3 linked regions of the Homo sapiens genome follow. The protein of the gene in region 2 interacts with the protein of the main gene of each other region in a pairwise test. Each region holds a gene or a part of one and is shown on either strand. Other genes may lie near its edges.

Evidence for each region.
Region 1: the proteins of UBE2Z (region 2) and TRIM65 interact in a two-hybrid assay, tested with the Homo sapiens proteins (one study listed by BioGRID and IntAct).
Region 3: the proteins of UBE2Z (region 2) and PLEKHA6 interact in binary tests that used the Homo sapiens proteins (3 or more experiments, as listed by UniProt).

The regions. Positions count from the first base shown.
Region 1 is NC_000017.11:75,888,302-75,893,951, reverse strand, and holds the end of TRIM65 (E3 ubiquitin-protein ligase TRIM65), read left to right. Parts: intron 1-1,101; coding exon 1,102-1,197; intron 1,198-1,412; coding exon of another isoform or gene 1,413-1,451; coding exon 1,452-1,685; intron 1,686-1,766; coding exon 1,767-1,941; coding exon of another isoform or gene 1,942-2,073; coding exon 2,074-2,139; intron 2,140-2,604; coding exon 2,605-3,173; 3' UTR 3,174-4,989; downstream 4,990-5,650. UniProt on the Homo sapiens protein: E3 ubiquitin ligase that plays a role in several processes including innate immnity, autophagy or inflammation.
Region 2 is NC_000017.11:48,918,407-48,925,406, forward strand, and holds part of UBE2Z (ubiquitin-conjugating enzyme E2 Z), read left to right. Parts: intron 1-2,753; coding exon 2,754-2,866; intron 2,867-4,440; coding exon 4,441-4,531; intron 4,532-7,000. UniProt on the Homo sapiens protein: Catalyzes the covalent attachment of ubiquitin to other proteins. Specific substrate for UBA6, not charged with ubiquitin by UBE1. May be involved in apoptosis regulation.
Region 3 is NC_000001.11:204,356,832-204,364,947, reverse strand, and holds the start of PLEKHA6 (pleckstrin homology domain-containing family A member 6), read left to right. Parts: upstream 1-5,018; 5' UTR 5,019-5,254; intron 5,255-8,116.

The sequences.
Region 1 (5,650 bases), about 27 Mb from region 2:
ACTGCTCATGGGCGGGTGCAGAAGACTGAGCTAGGCACGGAAGTTTGAGTTGGAGGCCGGTAGATGAGGGCCATGTGGAGGAAGGGAGCGACAGGGGCAGCCAGTAGCACCAGGGGAGCCAGGATTTTGCAAGAGAGAGGGAAAGGGACATGGGGGTGCCTGTCCCTGGGGGAGGGTTGGGTGCCCTGGGAGAGCCTGCCCTCCGGCCTCCTGTGTTCCTGTGTGAAATGCTGGAGGCTGGGGGCCCGGAGGAGCTCTGGGCTTAGGAAGATCTGAGGACTTTGACCAAATTATCAACTTCTCTGAGCCCGTTTCCTCCTCTGTGATGTGGGGATAGTAATGGTCCCCATCTCAGTGCATTGCGGGAGGAGCAGAAACAAGGTGGTGAAGCTTTTGACCAGGTGCTGGGAATGGAGCCCCTGGGACCTGCGTGGTTTGTCCTGCTCTCATGAGAGCACGGTGTTTTGATTCCCAAGGGACTCAGGGAGCGCAACCGAATAGGGGTCCCTTCCTCCCCTCTCAGTCTCAAAACTAGGGCCAGGGACTGGCCGGATCCCCAGAAGAATCTAGTTTATCCAGCAAGTAACTGCCCACTTGTCAGACAGCTTTGGTGCTTTGGGAGGTCCCTGCAGTCAGCTTCTCAAGCCCCAGGGCCTCCTGGGCCACTGACCCCTCTGCAGTGAGACAGGGACCAACGGCTTTAGTGTTTGGGGTCCTCCCTGCGAGGCCTCCTGAGCCAGCATTATCGCTTTCCTGTATTGATGGGTGGGGGGTTAGGCCCAGAGAGGACAGGTGCTTGGCCTCAGCTTGCTCAGCATGCAAGAGGTAGAAATGGGAATGGAAGTTGGGTCCTGAGCCCAAGGCTTCCGCTCTGCTCAGGCACCACCCTGCTGCAGATTAGGAAGGACTTTGTCTGGACCCCCCCGGGGCACGGCCCCAACTCTCCCTGGGTTAGACCGAGGCCGGTGCTCTGGAGGCTGGCCTGGGGTGGCGTGGGGAGGGGCTGCCTGGTGTCTGCAGGCATGGTTGGTTGTCTGAGAAAGGACATCACAGCCAATCCTGGCCTTCTCTTGTTGCTTGTCCCGTGGGCCCGCACCACAGGCCCAGCTGAGAGCCAGCCTGGAGGTTACCCAGCAGCAGGCCACCCAGGCCGAAGGCCAGCTACTAGAGCTGCGCAAGCAAAGCAGCCAGATCCAGGTACGAGGCCTGTGCCTGCCCGCCCACCATGGCCTCACACTGCATCCTGGGGCGGCCACCAGCTGGTCCCTGGAACACCAGGCAGCAGGGAGCGGGGCTGAGCAGGGAGCTGGGCACAGGGGTCCTGGGGAGGTTCCCGGGACCCTGCCTCCCCACATCCCTGACCCTCAGCCCAGCAGGCAGCCCTGGCCCTAGCCTCCCTTGGTATGGCACAGGGCCCTGGCCACCCTGAAGCCCCTCCTGTTCCCGCCCAGAACTCGGCCTGCATCTTGGCCTCCTGGGTCTCCGGCAAGTTCAGCAGCCTGCTACAGGCCCTGGAAATACAGCACACGACAGCACTGAGGAGCATCGAGGTGGCCAAGACGCAGGCGCTGGCACAGGCTCGAGACGAGGAGCAGCGGCTGCGGGTCCATTTGGAGGCTGTGGCTCGCCATGGCTGCAGGATCCGGGAGCTCCTGGAGCAGGTGGATGAGCAGACCTTCCTGCAGGTGCGAGGGCTCAGGGCATAGGTGGCGGACTTGCTTCCCTGCCCCTCAGGCCCAGGCTTACTTGTTCTCCCTGGGGCTCAGGAATCGCAGCTCCTCCAGCCCCCAGGGCCTCTTGGGCCACTGACCCCTCTGCAGTGGGATGAAGACCAACAGCTGGGTGACCTGAAGCAGTTGCTAAGCCGGCTGTGTGGCCTCCTCTTGGAAGAGGGGAGCCACCCTGGGGCACCAGCCAAGCCTGTGGACTTAGCCCCCGTGGGTAAGACTGACCCCAGGCCTCCCCCTGCTGTCCTGGGTCCAGCTGCCCCTCCCGCTGGGGGGGTGGAGGCGGGTCAGGGCCCACACATCGTGACCTCTCCAACCATTCCCTTAACACTGCTTTGCCCCCTAGAGGCCCCAGGTCCCCTGGCACCGGTCCCAAGCACAGTTTGTCCACTGAGGAGGAAACTCTGGCAGAGTAAGGAGGCCGTTCGTGTATGTGTGCCCCTGTGTGTGCGTGTGCAAGGAAGTGCCTGTGTGTGCTGTGAGCACGTGTGTGTGTGCATGTTCGTATGCACGTGTGAGTGAGGGGGGCACTTGTTTTGACTGTCCTGCCGGGACATCTGAGCCTGGTCCCACCCGCTGCACACCTCGTGCACATCCACCCTGAAGCAGACGCAGCCAGTGTGCGTTGAAGGACAGAGTCTGGGGCACAGACCCGTAATTCTTCCACTTAACACTGAGTTAATGGCTCTCAGAGCCCCAGTTTTCTCAGCTGTGAACGGGGCTGATAGAGGATTCCGCCTGCGAGGTCGTGGCGAGGATTAAGTGCTATGGTGACGGCCGGTGCTCAGCGTGCCTGGCGGAGGTTTAGCAGCGGATAAATGGAGATCTGGTTGTGCTGTCTTCCCCCAGCCCACTGCTGTCCTCCTTTCCCCAACAGATTATCGCAATCTGACCTTTGATCCAGTCAGCGCCAACCGTCACTTCTATCTGTCGCGCCAGGACCAGCAGGTGAAGCACTGTCGTCAGTCCCGGGGCCCAGGCGGGCCCGGCAGCTTTGAGCTCTGGCAGGTGCAATGTGCCCAGAGCTTCCAGGCCGGGCACCACTACTGGGAGGTGCGCGCGTCAGACCACTCGGTGACACTGGGCGTCTCCTACCCGCAACTGCCACGGTGCAGGCTGGGGCCCCACACAGACAACATTGGCCGGGGACCCTGCTCCTGGGGGCTCTGCGTCCAGGAGGACAGCCTCCAGGCCTGGCACAACGGGGAAGCCCAGCGCCTCCCAGGGGTGTCAGGGCGGCTCCTGGGCATGGATTTGGACCTGGCCTCAGGCTGCCTCACCTTCTACAGCCTGGAGCCCCAGACCCAGCCCCTGTACACCTTCCATGCCCTCTTCAACCAGCCCCTCACCCCCGTCTTCTGGCTCCTCGAGGGTAGGACCCTGACCCTGTGCCATCAGCCAGGGGCTGTGTTCCCTCTGGGGCCCCAGGAAGAGGTGCTCAGCTGAAGAAGGCATGGGATGGAGCCCTGGCATAGCTGCCACCATGCCTATGTGCCCAAGAGCTGCCCAGCTTCAGCTTGGGGACTGGAGGACCAGCTGTTGGCCTCTCTGTTAACTCAGAAAGAGATGGGAGGTTGGGGGAGGTGAGCATAAACGCAGAGTTCACTGTTGCAGCCTTTTTGAAGGGGACACAGTCTAGGAGGGGGATAAATGGGATGCCCTTGCCCCAGAGAGAACCCAGTTCTAGGTACTGTCTGGGCCTGGGAGGCGAGAGCAGTGCCCAGGGGACTTCTGGGCTTACAGGACAGCGTGTGTGACAAAATTCAGATCTACCTGAACTTGCCTCTGGAGATGATAAGGGCCAAAGGAGCAGTCAGGGAGGGGCGGTGAGCCAGAGTAGTCCCAGGGGGAGACAGATTCCTCCCTCCTCCCCGCCTGCAGCTCTCTTTAATTTTTTGTAACATTTGGAGAGACGTCCGTCCTGTCTTGTAGTCTTTTTATTTTGTGCATCCTTATAATTGTATTCTACAAACAATTTTGTTTTCTGCATTTAAACATTTTTGTGTTTTTAGGAGATGGTCTTGCTCTGTCACTCAGGCTGGAGTACAGTGGCACAATCATGGCTCACTGCAGCCTCGAGCTCCTGAGCTCAAAGGATCCTCCCACCTCAGCCTCCAGAGTAGCTCAGATTACAGTGTTTTCTGAAGTTTCCTGACTTAACATAAGCATTTTTCACATGATTGAAAATTTTCACTGATTGCTGTAGTCATTCTAATGACTATCAAGTTTATTTATCCATTATTGGACATTTAAATTTCTTTCTTTTTAGCTATACAAACATTGATGTGTTTTTTTTGAGACAGGATCTCCATCTGTCACCCAGGCTGGTGTGCAGGGGTGCGGTCATGGGCTCATGGGATTCTCCTACCTCAGCCTCCTGAGTAGCTGGGATTACAGGTGTATGCCACCACGCCTGGCTTATGATGAATATTTCTGAGTGGGATGTTTGGCCACATTTATGGTCATGTATGTAGGCTGTTACCTCAAGTGAGTCACTCAGGGAACAATGAGCACTTGAAGATTTTTTTATACAAAAGGCCACAGTGAGGCCACCTTGAGTCAAGCCGACTAAGGCCCCTCAACCCTGTCACTAAGCAGCACGTGACACTGGCAGGACCTTCATCTCCAGCATCCCACCCCTGGGTGTGGGACTTTGGGGCAGCCGTGTGTGCAGGTGTCGGCACAGGCTAGCTCCTCCTGGTTTGGTGTGGTGTTTGCCATTGCAGAGCAAGCTGCCACGAAGACCCCTGGGCATGATTTTGCTTGTATTTCCGGAAGTGGGGTTGCTGGGTCATAGGGCAGGTGTAATTTTTTTTACTTGAAATGTTCCACTTCTTGTTCTGGGAGGTGGTTCCAAGGGTGTCTGCTTTTGGCCAGGCGCAGTGGCTCACGCTTGTAATCCCAGCACTTTGGGAGGCCGAGGCAGGCGGATCACAAGGTCAGGAGTTCGAGACCAGCCTGGCCAACAAGGCAAAACCCCGTCTCTACTAAAAATACAAAAATTAGCCGGGCATGGTGGTGTGCGCCTGTAATCCCAGCTACTGGGGAGGCTGAGGCAGAAGAATCGCTTGAACCCAGGAGGTGAGGTTGCAGTGAGCTGAGATTGCACCACTGGACTACAGCCTGGGTGACAGAGCGAGACTCTGTCTCAAAAAAAAAAAAAAAAAGGGAGGGCTGTCTGCTTTTTGTAACTTGAAAAACTGGACATCTATGTTATATGTACTCATGGATAAATATTTCACAATAAAACTTTTTAAAAGGATAATACGTGTAATATACATACCCCCAATATATATAATGTTTTTATATTTGTAAAAAAAAAAAACCTCCCACGACGACCCCACCCCGATCACTGCCGTCATTGCAGCCTCCATCTTGTGGCCCTGCTCCTAGCCTGTGGCTGTTTGTTCAAGAGCAGGGCAGGGCCTTGGATTGGCACAGCCCAGGCAAGGACTTTCCAGCAAGATCCTCAGGTGGGAGCTCCCCAGACATGGGAAGGGAATCTGACATGTGCAGCCCCACAGCCAGGAGGCGGGCAGGACCTTGCTGACCAGCTAGGGGCAATGGTGGGAGCTGAAAGCCCAGCCAGGCAGGATGTATTGGCCTGGCCAGATGGCTGTCATTGCTGTCCCCACCTCATAGTCCCTCCTAATCCAAGGCTGCAGCAGAAGCACCCAACGGGCTGAGCCGCGCTCTGAAAGGGGCAGAGAGAGGAAGAGTTGGCCCCTTTCTGCTTCTGAGGTGGGAGGTGTTTGGGGTCATTTATTATGTGAAATTCATCTTCCTATTGGGTGGTGGTTCTTTCTATATTCTGCGAGCGTGTTCTATATTATTAATAATAACCCCTTTTTCTTTCTTTCTTTTTTTTTTTTGAGACAGAGTCTTGCTCTGTCGCCCAGGCTGGAGTACAATAGCGTGATCTC
Region 2 (7,000 bases):
CACTGCAGCCTCCACCTCCCAGGGTCAAGCAATTCTCCTGCCTCAGCCTCCTGAGTAGCTGGGACTACAGGCGCACACCACCACGCCTGGCTAATTTTTGTATTTTTAGTAGAGGTGGCGTTTCACCATGTTGGCCAGCTGGTCTTGAACTCCTGACCTTAGGTGATCAGCCTGCCTCGGCCTCACAAAGTGGTAGGATCACAGGTGTGAGCCACAGAGTCTGGCCTCAAAAGTTAACAAAAATTATTTCCTAACCCATCCTTTCTCCAAACATTCATTTCAGGAGGAGAGTCTAATTGAAATAGACCTCATTAGCAGGAGCTGATTTTTAGGTCTTGTCTTTTTTTTTTTTTTTTTGGAGGCAGACTCTCACTCTGTCACCCAGGCTGGAGTGCAGTGGTGTGATCTCAGCTCACTGCAACCTCTGCCTCCCAGGTTCAAGCGATTCTAGTACCTCAGCCTCCCAAGTAGCTGGGATTACAGGCACACACCATGACGCCTGGCTAATTTTTGTATTTGTAGTAGAGATGGGGTTTCGCCCTGTTGGCCAGGCTTGTCTTGAACATATGGCCTCAAGCAGTCTGCCCACGTCCGCCTCCCAAAGTGCTGGGATTACAGGTGTGAGCCACCATGCCCAGCCTTGTGTTTTTTATTTTTTACTTCCAGAATGACTTGCAGTTGTTTTTATTTTATTTATTTATTTATTTTTTATTTATTTACAGGCACACACCACCACACCCAGCTGATTTTTGTATTTTTAGTAGAGACGGGGTTTCACTGTTTTGGCCAGGCTGGTCTCCACCTCCTGACCTTATGATCCACCTGCCTCGGCCTCCCAAAGTGCTGGGATTACAGGTGTGAGCTACCGCGCCTGGCCCATCAGCTATTTTTATCAGAGGCCAGGGCTCTAATTGACTGGGGTTGGTGGTAAGAGGAGAAGAGCACAGGAAAAATTAAAGGAGTAGAGGCCATACTCCCCTTCTATTCACACCATAGTGAGACCCTGTTTATATTGGCTTTCTAGACCAAAGTTGAAGTTTATCTTTCGAAGCTTCTGATAGATTTATTTCTAATTGTACTATTTCTTTGAGACAAAGTCTTGCTTTGTCACCCAGGCTGGAGTACAGTGGCACAGTCATAGCTCACTGAAGCCTCGAACTCCTGGGCTTTAGCCATCCTCTCACCTCAGCCTTCTGAGTAGCTGGGACGACAGGTGCACACCACCAATGCCCAGCTAATTTTTGTATTTTTTATAGAGACGGGATCTCACCATGTTGCCAATGCTGATCCTGAACTCCTGAACTCAAGCGATCCGCCTGCATCGGCTTCCCAAAGTGTCGGGAGTACAGGCATGAGCCATCGGGCCCAGCCCTACTTCTGATTTATAATAATTGGTTCAATGATGGTGGGACCCTAGAGACATATAACAGGTAAAGGGGTTAACCAGGAAGCATCCTTTACTTGTTGATGCCTGAAGGTTTTCTACACTGAGACTCTTCACTTCATTTATACCTTTTTGTCCCACCATCATTCTTTCTGTCTTTTTTTTTTCTCCCCCTAAAGAGACAAGTGTTTCCCAGCCTGGGCAACGTAGTGAGACCTTGTCTCTACCGAAAAACTTTTTTAAAAAAATAGCTGGGCATTGTGACATGTGCCTTGAGTCCCAGCTACTTGGGAAGCTGAGGAGAGGAGCATCGCTTGAGCCCAGGAATTCGAGGCAGCAGTAACCTCTGATCATGCCACCACTCTCCAGCCTGGATGACAAAGCAAGAGCCTGCCTCTTAAAAATTTTTTAAATAAAAGACAAGCCGGGTGCGGTGGCTCATGCCTGTAATCCCAGCGCTTTGGAAGGCTGAGGCAGGTGGATTACCTGAGGTCAGGCGTTCAGGACCAGCCTGGCCAACGTGGTGAAACACTGTCTCTACTAAAAAATACAAAAACTAGCTGGGCGTGGTGACAGGCGCCTGTAATCCCAGCTACTTGGAAGGCTTGAGACAGGAGAATCGCTTGAACCCAGGAGGCGGAGGTTGCAGTGAGCTGAGATCGTGCCATTGCACTCCAGCCTGGGTGACGAGCAAAACTCAAAAAAACAAATAAATAATAAAAAATAAAAACTCGGGGCCCACCATGGTGACGAATGTCTTTAGTCCCAGCTACTCAGGAGGCTGAGGTGGGAGGATCGCTAGAGCCCAGGAGTTTGAGGATTGCTGGAGCCCAGGAAGTCAAGGCTGCAGTTAGCTGTGATGGTGCCGCTGCACTCCAGCCTGGGCAACAGCAAAGACCCTGTCTCCAAAAAGAAAAACTGAAAAAACAGGAACTTACTTTGTTGTCTAGGCTGAACCCAAACTCTTGGGCTCAAGTGATCCTCACACCTTGGCTTCCTGAGTAGCTGGGACTATTAGTTTATGCCACCAGGCTTAGCAACCCTACCATCATTCTTATGTTTGGTTATTTCCCACATAATCTTTACTTGATAGACCTTTCACTTCACATTCAGGAAAATATGATGGATCTAGTTTGCTGGTGATAGGCCAAATGACCTGTAACCTGTTGGTATATTTGGAGGGTGGTGGAGGTGAATGGTGTCAAAAATAAAGGTGTGGTTGCTCTTCATGGATCTGCCATACAGTGGGAAAGGTATCTTTTTAGTTTGTGTGACTGGCTGACATACCCCATACTAATCTTGAAGTCCCTTCCCATTGGTTTTCTTTTTGCTTAATTTTTGGAATACTCTGGCATCTGTTACATTATAGGAGAGACATCCAGGAGACAGCAAAAACTATAATGAATGTATCCGGCACGAGACCATCAGAGTTGCAGTCTGTGACATGATGGAAGGAAAGTGTCCCTGTCCTGAACCCCTACGGTATGTGTCAAGCGGGCTTGCTTGGTATTCCTTTCGGGCATTTGGGTAGTTGGCATCTTTGGGGCAGAGTACAGTGTTGGGTACCAGAGGGAGATAGAGAAGAAGGAAAGATGTGGTTCCTGCTTTTAAAGAACAAGTGGCTGAGGGTTACCCAAGAGGAAGTTCAGAGAGCTACTCTGTTGTTGGAGAATGCCATGCCTTTGGGAGAGGCAGTCCACACGCTCAGGGAGCTTCCAGTTTGATGAAGGCTTGGACGTACTTTTTTCCAGCCAAATGTGTAGAGTACTTCATAATAAGACTCATTTCTTAGTGCTGAAGTTATTTTTAAGTGCCAAAACTGGATGAGCAACGTCAGGGTTAAATAAATAAACTTCTAGGAGAATTTTGAGTAAGGTTTGGGATTGGGGATGGCTGATGAAAAGCAATGGAGGTGGAGCAAGTCATGAGTTGAAGTTGGGATTCAAATGGTGAGTATTGGCTTGGTGGTGGCTCACGCCTGTAATCCTAGTACTTTGGGAGGCTGAGGCGGGAGGATCACTTGAGCCCAAGAGTTCGAGACCAGCCTGGGCAACACAGGGAGACCCCATCTCTACAGAAATTTTAAAATTAGCCAGGTGTGATGGCACGCTCCTGCAGTCACAGCCAGTCAGGAGGCTGAGGTGGGAGGATTGCTTGAGCCTAAGAGGTTGAGGCTGCAGTGAGCTGTGATGACACCACTGCACTCCAGCCTGGGTAACACAGCAAGACCCTGCCTCAAAAAGAAAACTAATGGTGAATATTACAGTCACACTCATAATTCCTGATGTGTAGGGGAAGTCAACCACGGGCAGTTAGGTGTTCCTTTTTCCAAAAGGAACTGTAATCCCAGCACTTTGGGAGGCCAAGGAAGGCAGATCACCAGGTCAGGAGTTCAAGACCAGCCTGACCAACATGGTGAAACCACATCTTTACTAAAAATACAAAAATTACCCGGGTGTGGTGGCACGCACCTGTAATCCCAGCTACTCAGGAGGCTGAAGCATGAGAATCACTTGAACCTGGGAGGCGGAGGTTGCAGTGAGCCGAGATTGCGCCACTGTATTCCAGCCTGGGCAAAAGAGCGAGACTCAGTCTCAAAAAAATAAAAAATAAATAAAATGAAAAGATCTTTGTAGAAAACAGATCTGGACTTGGGAATGGTAGGTATTTAATTTGGCATTAAGGTTAGGTAAAGAGGCCAGGTGTGGTGGCTTGCGCCTGTAGTCCTAGCACTTTGGGAGGCCGACGCAGGCAGATCAGTTGAGGTCAGGAGTTCCTGACCAGCCTGGGCAACATGGTGAAACCCCGTCTCTACTAAAAACAAAAATTAGCCAGGCGTGGTGGCATATGCCTGTAATCCCAGCTTCTCAGGAGGCTGAGGCAGGAGAATTGCATGAATCCGGGAGGCAGAGGTCACAGTGAGCTGAGGTTGCACCACTGCACTCCAACATGGGCTACAGAGCAAGACTCCATCTGAAAAAAAAAAAAGGTTAGGTAAGGAAGGGGTGACCTGTACCCCTGGGTTTCTCACTTACACTTTTCTGCTTGTTTTCCAGAGGGGTGATGGAGAAGTCCTTTCTGGAGTATTACGACTTCTACGAGGTGGCCTGCAAAGATCGCCTGCACCTTCAAGGCCAAACTATGCAGGTAATACAACCCCTGCTGCTAATTGCAGAAGCCCTACAGCTGGCCATGTAAAAGCCCCCCACAAGCGTGGCATCGACAGCTGTCATAGAATGACACAGCTAAGCCTGGGTTCAGTGGCTCATGCCTGTAATCCCAGCACTTTGGGAGGCCAAGGCGGGCGGATCACGAGGTCGGGAAATTGAGACCATCCTGGCTAACACGGTGAAACCCCGTCTCTACTAAAAATACAAAAAATTAGCCGGGCATCGTGGCGTGTACCTGTAGTCCCATCTACTCAGGAGGCTGAGGCAGGAGAATCACTTGAACCCAGGAGGCAGAAGTTGCAGTGAGCTGAAATTGTGCCACTGCACTTCAGCCTGGACAACAGACCGAGACTCTGTCTCAAAAAAAAAAAAAAAAAAAAAAAAAAATAGCCAGGCGCGGTGGCTCACGCCTGTAATCCCAGCACTTTGGGAGGCTGAGGTGGGCAGATCACCTGAGGTCGGGAGTGTGAGACCAGCCTGGCCAACATGATGAAACCCCGCCTCTACTAAAAACACAAAAAATTGGCTCAGCGTGGTAGCATGTGCCTATAATCCCGGCTACTTGGGAGGCTGAGGCAGGAGAATCGCTTGAACCTGGGAGGCCGAGGTTGCAGTGAGCTGAGTGCACTCCAGTCTGGGCAACAAGAGCGAAACTCGGTCTCAAAAAAAAAAGCTAAAAGCAACCTATATCATTTGAGGGACTGAGAGCCAGAGAGGAGACTGATTTTCATGAAGTCATAGGGAACTCTTTACTTTCCTTGGTCAGTAGCCTCTTTTTTTTTTTTTTTTAAAGGCAGGTTCTCACTCTGTTACTCAGGCTGGAGTGCAGTAGCTGGGTCACAGCTCACTGCAACTCCAAACTCCCAAGCTCAAGCAGTCCTCCCACCTCAGCCTCCCAAGCTGGGACTTACAGGTGTGCACCACCACAGCTAGTTTTTGTTTTGTTTTGTTTTTTGAGACAGAGTCTTGCTCTGTTGCTCAGGCTAGAGCAATCTCAGCTCATTGCAACTTCAGCCTCCCAAGTAGTTGGGATTACAGGCATACGCCATCATGCCCAGCTAATTTTTTGTGTTTTTAGTAGAGACGGGGTTTCACCATGTTGGCCAGGCTAGTCTTGAACTCCTCACCTCAAGTGATCTACCTCCCTCGGCCTCCCAAAGTGCTGGGATTACAGGCCCTGTTTTGTTTTGTTTGGTTGTAGAGATAGGGTCCCACTCTATTGCCCAGGCAACTCCTGGGTTCAGGTGATCCTCCTCCCTTAGCCTCCAAACTGGGAGGCTGAGATTATTACAGGTGTGAGCCACTGCACCCAGCCCATAGTGTTTTGAAGCTAAGATGCGTTCAGCCCTCCCAGAATCTTAGGGATTATATGAATCCTCTATTTAAATTCTGTTCCCAGCCCTGAGGGTTGATCACAGAAACAGTAGCTTAGAGAAACAACATACCTGTAGTGTCACATGTTGAAAGATTCCTATTCAAAGATGATAACCATTGTTCATTCTTTGCCTCTACTGGGAAAAGTGTGCTTTTGCTTCCCATAAGAACTCAAAATTTAGGCTTGTTTTAAGGAAGGAGGCTATCATTGACCAAATTGTAGATAGACAGCCAGGTGCGGTGGCTTATGCCTATAATCCCAGCACTTTGGGAGGCAGAGGTGGACAGATCTCTTGAGGCCAGGAGTCCAAGACCAGCCTGGCCAACATGGTGAAACCCCATCTCTACTAAAAATACAAAAATTAGCCAGGCATGATGGCTCATGCCTGTAATCTCAGCTACTTGGGAAGCTGAGGGATGAGAAATGCTTGAACCTGGGAGGCAGAGGTTGCAGTAAACTGAGATTGCACTACTGCACTCCAGCCTGGGCAACAGAACAAGATTCTGTCTCAAAAAAAAAAAAAAAAAAAAGACAAAAATTATAGATAGACTAATGTAAACCACCTGGTTGGTAAGAGAATGAGAATTCTCCTGTCCTGGAGAATCAGTTCTTGGGTGTTTGGATCATCTTACTGGTGGTCTTGCTTAGAAATGGGATACTCGTGGGGCCTGGCGCAATGGCTCATGCCTGTGATCCCAGTACTTTGGTAGGCCGAGGCAGACAGATCACTTGAGATCAGGAGTTTGAGACCAGCCTGGCCAACACAGTGAAATCCTGCCTCTACTAAAAATACAAAAATTAGCCAGATGTAGTGGTGCGTGCCTGTGGTCCCAGCTACTTAGGAGACTGAGGCACAAGAATTTTGCTTGAACCTGGGAGGTGAAGGTTGCAGTGACCCGAGATCACGTTGCACTCTAGCCTTGGCGATGGAGCCAGACTCCACCTCAAAAAAAAAAAAAAAAAGAAAGAAAAAGAAATGGGAGACTTGGATAATTGACTAAGATTTCTTAAGGCTCTCTCCAGCTCTCGTACTATGTCTGTTCACCCACCCCAACACCAACAGCGTAGGAG
Region 3 (8,116 bases), on a different chromosome or scaffold from region 2:
GTAGTTATTTGCTTATACTTGTGTCATTTTCCACTAGATTAGTAACTCTCCAACTGGAGCGTGTATCACAATCACTGGAGGGTTTGTTGGAGCACAGATGGCTGGGCCCTACCCCTAGAGTTTCGGATTCAGAGGGTCTAGAATTTGCACTTCCAACACATTCTCAGGTTATGCTGCTGTGGCTGCTCTGGGGCCCACACTTCGAGAACCAGTAGCCTAGACTGAAAACTCATCAAGGGCAGGGGCAACACAGGGGGGTCGTAAAGTCCGGAGACACAGGCAATATTGTTTAATTATCAACCAGCCATGAATTCTGTGTTCACATACATTTCCAGACCTGGTGGTCATTCTGTATATCATAGCAGCAGCCGCCACTCTAGGAGCTAAGTGCTTTATGACATTATCTCATTTATTCCTCACCGCACCTTTATGAGGAGGTTCTATCATCCCGCTTTTAGCAAATAATGGGAAAACTGGTTCTTCGTATGTATTACTCAATGTCACAAAGCTTGTATTAATAGAAAGCAAGCGGGAAGGCGGCCTCATGTGTGCCTGATTTCACAGGCTTTGCTCTTAGCATGATGGCACGGCTGCTTCCCAGCATCCTTGGCACCTTGCTTGGACAAACGAAGTGCTCAGTAAGTTCTTGCTGAATGAGTGAGTGAATGAATGAACGACTGGCTCACCGTTCGTTCCTATTTTCACAGTTCCCACAAAGGTTTATGACATTTGGTTGGTGGATGAGTTAGAAACTCAAACGACTTCAGACATGGATTCCAAGTAATAATAAGAGCCAGACAACCGGAGGAGTTATTTTGTTTCTTTTAGTGTGGATGAGGGAGGGAAATTTCAATGAGCAAATATTGACATTTGCCCAGGAGCAGACAAATGTGTTAATTGTGTGTCAAAAAGCTCTTTCTTTCAGGGTATTTAGGAAGTGACTCTCATGGTATCCACAACAGACGTTTTGCTCGAGTGTGCGTGTGGTTTTGAAGGTGTCATTTACTGGGAAGAGTGGTGGGAGGAGGAGAGAACAAGCGAAAGGTTAAAACGTGGGAGAAACGCACTGCAAGCCTGTATGCACTTACCGCAAGAATCCACAAGAGGGCTCCAGAGCACACATGATGGCCCCACAAGGCTTTCAGGGGGTTTGCTCACAGCGTCTCCCCAGGCTGAAGGCGCCTTCTCGGAGGTGACAGGGCCACCTTTCCCATCCCCTGCCACCTCCCAGCCATAGTGGGTCTGGTAGCTGTCTTTCTGATGCTTAAAGATCTAGCTATGTAACACCCATTCCTGCCCAACAGGAAGTGTTCCCCCGCCCCCTTGTCTCCCTCCTCCGCGTTCCTGCGGAAGCCGCCGCCGGTGAAACTGGCCAGTTCTGTCCCCAAGGGTGCCTCTCTCCTTCCCCAAGGTTGACAGGGAGGGAGACGTGGCAGGACGCTTTCTGCAGAGCCACACCCCTGATAACCCGGTTCCCAAGCTGGGCCCCTGCGGCTCCTCCACCGAGGGAACCCCACCCAGCCGTTGGTCTTCCTTGTTCTGTTCTGGAAGCTTCCTCCAGGAAGGTGCGAGAATGTGCAGGCAGGCAGTCCACCCACGGCCCTGGCGCGCCTACGGGCTGCTCAGCGCTTCTTGAGGGGTTGCAGGGAGGCAGAGATCAGAAGCCCAGGTCTCTGCCCCGCGTGCTTCCAGGCTGGGCAGTGAGACCCCGGTGAGCCTCCAAGGCTGTGCTGGGTCTCTGGGATTCATCAGTACAGACCCCAACCCGAACTGCGAGACCCCGGAGGAGGGGCCCTGGGAGGGGCGGGGGAGCCACCAAAAGCAGTTCTGTTGTCTCCAGAAGGCAGACAGGACAGAGCACAGGAGTGCTGGGGCAGCAGTTCTGGTACAGTGACCCCACTAGCTCTAGGCTTAGAAAGGCAGATAACACCCCAGAACAGTAAAGAAGGAGGCGGCCGAGGAGAAAAGGTAGTGAATGTGCTGGGCTTCAAAGAAGCCCATTTGCAGGTGAGGAAAACAGGCTGGATAGTCAAGTAATTTGTTCAGTCAGTGAGTTACTCAGGGATGGAGCTGGGCTTCCAAGTCACACAGGTTATCGTTAGCCAGGCATGGTGGCTCACACCTGTAAGTCCCAGCAACTCAGTAGGCTGAGGCAGGAGGATTGCTTGAGCCTGGGAGATGGAGACCAATCTGGGCAACATAGCAAGACTCTGTCTGTAAAACAAACTAAAAAATTAGCTGCATGTGGTGGTGTGTACCTGCAGTACCAGCTACTTGGGAGGCTGAGGAGGGAGGATTGCTAAAGCCCAGGTAGAGGTGGAGGCTGCAGTGAGCTAGTTCATCCCACGGAGCTCCCTTTGCTGCCCCTAGTTGGCATGTTCTGCGAGGAAGAGAGACCCATGTGGATGCAGTTCCACTGAATGGGCAGTGAGCCAGTCAAGTTAGTGGCCACCAAGACTGTATGGTAGGGAGTGGGGATGGCACCAGAAAGGTGGGGAGGACCCGTGTGTTTGGAGACCATGAGTAGGTGCCTGGGAAGCTTGGACTTGATCCTCTGAGCAATGGGGACCAGTGATTGTAGAGCAGAGGAGAGACGGGATCGCAGAGGTGCTTTCTGTGGAATCCTCCCTCCCTCACGCCACCTCACGCCTTCCCCATTGGAGTTGTTTAGGTGAGGCTTGCTTCTCCTCTTCTGGGCTCGCAGAGCAAGAACTTAGATTTGGCAAAGGGAATTTATTATCTCTGGTCCATCCGCCTCACCTGTCCTTGCTGTAGCTCTAAGATCTTCATGCTACCACATCTCTTCCGCCTTGGTCCCCCAGCTAAAGGCATGCACCCCACACCGACCCTCCCTTTGGCTTCTCATGCCCCTGAAGCTACTCAGATCCCCCAGAAACATTCACATGTCTGGCTCAGGCTTCTCGAAGGATCCGTGGGACTCGTCTGCGGCCCTTGCCCTCTGCCTGCCAGAGAGGAAACCCGCCCAGCAGGCCCATCTGTTGGTCGCCTGCCTTTTCCAGCTGCCTGAGGATTGTGGGGGCTTGGGCTGGGGTCTCTGTCCCCCTCCCCGGCCTCCCTCTGGGATGCTGTAATCTCTTGCCTCCACTCCTTTCCTCCACTGGCTCCGCAGGGTCAGAGACCCCCAAGAGCCCCTCATCTTGGCTGACTGAAAGCAGACTCTCCCCCTGCCTGCACCTGGCAGCCTTGCCAAGTCCTGGAGAGCCAGGGCAGGTGAGTTGGGCTTGATCGGTCCTGCCTGGCACTGGGCCCTCATCCACAACTTGTCTGCCCCTTCAGCAGAGCAGCTTTCCTATAGCCAATGCAGGGCTGGCCTGACATCTCAGCTGGGCAGGGGAACAGTGGGAGGTGACCAAGAGTCCCCCTCCCCAAGAGTGCTGCTGAGCTGCGCCTGCTGCCCTAACCCCAGATTCCTGGCTCCAGCCTGGCCTGCCCTGGGGTGGGAAAGACAGTCCCTTCAGTAGCTCTCTAGGTCCCTGTCTTCCTCCAATGCTGTGGTGTGTGTGAGTGGGGTGTGGAGCCACAGCCTTCACACCAACCAGCCAGGTTCCTCCCAGGCCCTGGGAGGGAAGTCTGTGCTCCTGTTCCTTCCGTTGCACATTCCTTTACAGATAAGGGCTTCAGTTGGTAAAAATGATATATGTACTCAGATCACACTAAGAGAGACCCACTTGTATTGGAGTCAAGAGGCTTAATTTTTTGATCAAGTTGTTCTAATAATAAACAAAAAATGCAATCACCAGGTGAGTGGGGCCTTGCAGACACCCTTTCTCTAGCTCCTGCTTCTTGACATATTTCTCTATTCAGAAGTGACTCCAGAAGCTCATCTGGTTCAGTCCCCAGTTTCCAGGTTTAAGGGGCAGATGGGACTGAGACCAGCGAGCCTGCCTGGAGGTTGAGGTGGGAATCTTTTGGTTTTTTCCATCTTTCTGATCCTGTTTATGAAATCAGTGTTTTTATTACACTTGCCCATTGTCACAGAGAATCCGTGGATAGAGGAAAACTGAGAGAGATGTGGATAAAGGGAAACTGAGGCAGAAAGCAATCTTTGTCTAAGCAGAAACAGAGCTACGACCCTATTGTCTGAAGTCCTTCCTTCTGCCTCTGATCCTGAATAATACAGAACCCAGGTACCCCGTAGCTTGGCTAGCATCCTTGCTCAGGGTTATCAAGACCGATTTGGGCAGGAGCTAGAGAAAGGGTTTCTGCAAGGCCCCACTCACCTGATAATTGCATTTTTTGTTTATTATTAGAACAACTTGATTAAAAAATTAAGCCTCTCGACTCCAATACAAGTGGGTCTGTCTTAGTGTGATCTGAGTACCTATATCATTTTTACCAACTGAAGCCCTTATCTGTAAAGGAATGTGCAACGGAAGGAACAGGAGCACAGACTTCCCTCCCAGGGCCTGGGAGGAGCCTGGCTGGTTGGTGTGGGGGCAGTGGCTCCACAACCCACTCACACCCCACTCATCCTGGCATCTCATAGTGGCCCCCAACCCTCTCCAAATGTTATTTCTCTAAATTCACCATATTGGGGGGGGGGCGGGGGATGGGGAGGCCCCAGGGCCCCAGCCAAGCCCTCTTGACACCTAGAGACGTGCCCCTCTCTGGAGTAGACAGCCACAGAGGTGAAAGGTGATCACCAGGCTGGCTGGGTGAGGCCCCACACATGATTCTAAGACCCTGGGCAGTTTCTGGCTCCCTGCAGTCTCTTGTGGGGGACTCTAAAAATGCAGCTTACCCAGACGGTGGCCCTGCTCCCCTTTGGGGGGCAGCCTTCTCCTGGTGGTGGAAGGCCCAGGAGGCTGTGCTGAGCCACCCCATCCTCTCCCGGGCAGGCAGGCTGCGTGGATGGTTAGCAGCTTGTCGCTGGTGTGGATGGAGTTAAACCTTTTCGGGGACTATTTACTCCTGATCCTAAGTGACAGCTTGGGGAGGGAGAGTCACGTGGCCCTGAAATCCCCGGGGGAGCCGATGGAGCATGCCCAGCTGCCTCTGCCTGGGAAAGATGCTGGATCCTGCAGTAACCACAACAGCATCCTCTCCCTGCGCCAGGGACCTGCCAGCCGGAGAGATGACTGATTAGATCAGATTAGATCCGGAGCCCCGCTCTGCAGAAGGGGGCCCCAGGGGCGGGGGAGGAGGACCCCAGCTGGCCTGAGCTGGGGGGAGGGGTGCCTTGGGGCTCGCAGAGTTAGAGCTTTCCAGCGCGGGGATCACACCTCAGAAGCCGGTGAGTCTGTTTTCATGCATCACATAGATGAGGTGGGAGGAGGAAGGCTGGGCTCTGGTCAGGGCTGGCAGCTGCCTGTCTGCCGCGTGAGCCTGGGCTGCTTGCACTGCGGAGCACTGGCTTCCCCATCTCTCATCCTTGGCAGCCTTACTTGGGGATCATGGATGCTGAGAATGCTAATTATAGCCCTCCCTGTGCCCCCACCCCCACCTCCAGAGTCCCCTGTCAGGGCTGATGCTGTTTAAATTGATTACATTTGAATTGCATCTCCTGGATGAAGGCAGCGTTGGGGCTGGCAGCTTCCTAGGGTCCAGCAGGGGTCCCCCACGCAAGCTAGCACAGAGAGGCCAGCCCACCCTCCCTTTAATCTTGCCAGCAGGAAGGAGAGAGGGAGGGGGTCCAGGGTCAGGCTCAGGTCAGCCCCAGGGACTCACCTTCCTCAGCGTGGGGAGGGGTCAGGGTGTGTATCATTCTTATGAGTCAGAGGTTGGGTCGAAGGGTGACAGAGGCTCTTGGATTCCAATTCCTAGGACGCATCTGAGCTCTGGGGGTCTCAGATTTAGTGGGGAGCTCTTGAAGGAGCTGGAGCCTGGTATGTGGTAGAGGAGGGCAGGGAATGAGGGGATGGCATTTATAATGATGGGACCAGGCTGCAGCCAGCTAAGAGCCTCGAGGTATTGTGTGAGGAGTCTGAGGAAAGGAGGACAGTTGGGGGACTGGCCAGAGAAGGGTAAGGAGGGCTACAGTGGAAGGGGAGGGAAGCGGGGCGAGACAGGAAAGTGGCGGGGGTGGGGGAGAAGGGAGAAGAAGGGAGAAGAGGCTCCTGGGAAATGCTCTTTGAGACAACAGGCCAGCCAGGGCAGGGAAGGGGGCTGTGGAGCCTGGGAGAGCAGAGATGGAGAACCGGGATAGAGGGAGAGCCATCCCCGGGGCACAGGGGTGGGGAGGGAGAGCTGCAGGAGGGTGGAAGGTGGTGGGGAGGAGGCTGGAGCTCAGAGCTGGTGTCAGAGGAGGTTGCAGCCTTCAGGGATTGGAGGCTCTTCCCAAAGCCCTGTAGACCCTTTACCCTCAATCTGATCACTTGAGTGGTGCACTCTGCTGAGGGTCTCCTGCATGGTGGGGCAGGGTCCTGGCTGGCAGGTATCTGCCTGAGCCCACTGTCTGGGCAGGTGCGGGGGCACTGCGGGCACTTGCCCTACAAATCTCCCAAATCCTGTTTTCCAGGCCACCCTGGAAGAGTATGAAACTGAGGAGGGCTCCTGTGGCTAGGACGGTTCAGTCGCCAGCTTTCACCCCCGAGCAGCTGCATTTTAGCTTCAGCAGGACATGAGCAGACCCTGCTGGTGGAGGGGAGGTGGGAGCGGCTAGGCTCTGGCCTGTCTCCAGGTTGGGGTGGCAGGAGGGGCTGAAGGCACCCCTCCTGGCACTGCCACTGGGCTTTCCTTATGGAAACAAGCGAGTTTCTGTGTCTTTGCACAAGGGCACAGAGTGCCGAGCCACAGATATGAATTATTAAAAGTCATTGGTTTTCCAATCAGCGGCGAGGTGATAAATGTGTTAGCACTGGTGTGTAATTAATCCTGGCAGGCTGCTGCACACAGGCTGCAGACAATGGGGGTCCCCACCTGCTTTTTTTTTGCTGGGCTAGGCTTCTTTTCCTCCTTCCTAGGAAGGTGATGGTGCAGGACGCCTTACACAGATAATTACTTTGAATGTGTCTGCCTGGATTATTGAGTTGGATTATTTCTGCTTGTAAATGAAATAATTACTGATCCCTCAGTCAGTGAGGGAGGCAGCCACCTTGGCTCCCGGGCTGACATCAGAGCCCCCACCTCGCCCAGACCCAGCCTGCAGCCTCGGGCTCATAGAGCGAGCTCTCTTGGCCCAGGGGACTGGCCTAGGCCAGAGTGAAGAAGCCGCAACAGCAGATGGGAGCGTGGTGTCAACTGGTGCTGAACAGGCTGCGGTTCCGTTCTCCGAGCCAATTTCCTCATCGTCTTCCTCACTGCCTGTTGTGAATTTGATGAGGTCATTGGCACTGGTCTTGGCGCACCCATGGGGCCCCCCAGAGGAAGGTTGGAGCTGTGCCTCACAAAAGAGCTGCAGGATTCGCACTCCCCTGAGCTCTGGGGTGAGGCGAACGGGCTCAGGAAGCCAGGGCTTAATGAGGGGACTTGAGCAGGCCAGTCTCCAAACACTTAAAGCACATTCAGAGAGGAAAAAAAGACTATATTTTGGGAGACATTTAGAGTAACTGGGAGCAGAAGGAAAAGAAGTTGAGGGTAGGCTGAGTGGAAGCCTTCCCTTGACCATCTGTCTGTTCAGGGGGCTCCTGCTCAGCACCTACAACCTTCAGACGCCCCTCAGAGACTATCTAGTCCAGACTCCCTCCACATCCAGATGAGCCTTCCTCAGCCTCCCTGACAGAAGCAGCAGCCTCACTTGGATAATTTCAGTGACAGGGAGCTCATTACCTCACAAGGCAGCTTCCTCTGTGGCTGGAACATTCTTCTATGTTGAATCAAAATCTGCCGACTTCTAAGTTCCACCCTCTGGTTCTGATTCTTTGAAGCTGTGCAGAACAAGTCACCTCTCTCTTTTACGTGGTCATAAAAATAGTTTTCTTTTGATTAAAATAGTATATAATAGTCCGTGTGTGGATGTAATATATTTTACATGATCATTTCTATATTGGACATTTAGGTTGTTACCTTATTTTCCTTTTACAGATAGCACAAGAGGAACATTTTTGTTCATAAGGCTCTTTCTGTGTTTTGGGTGACTTAGGATAAATTCCAAGGCATAGAATTAATGTGATGAAGGGTGTACATTAAAAGAATTACTATTCTGTGAGTGTAAAAG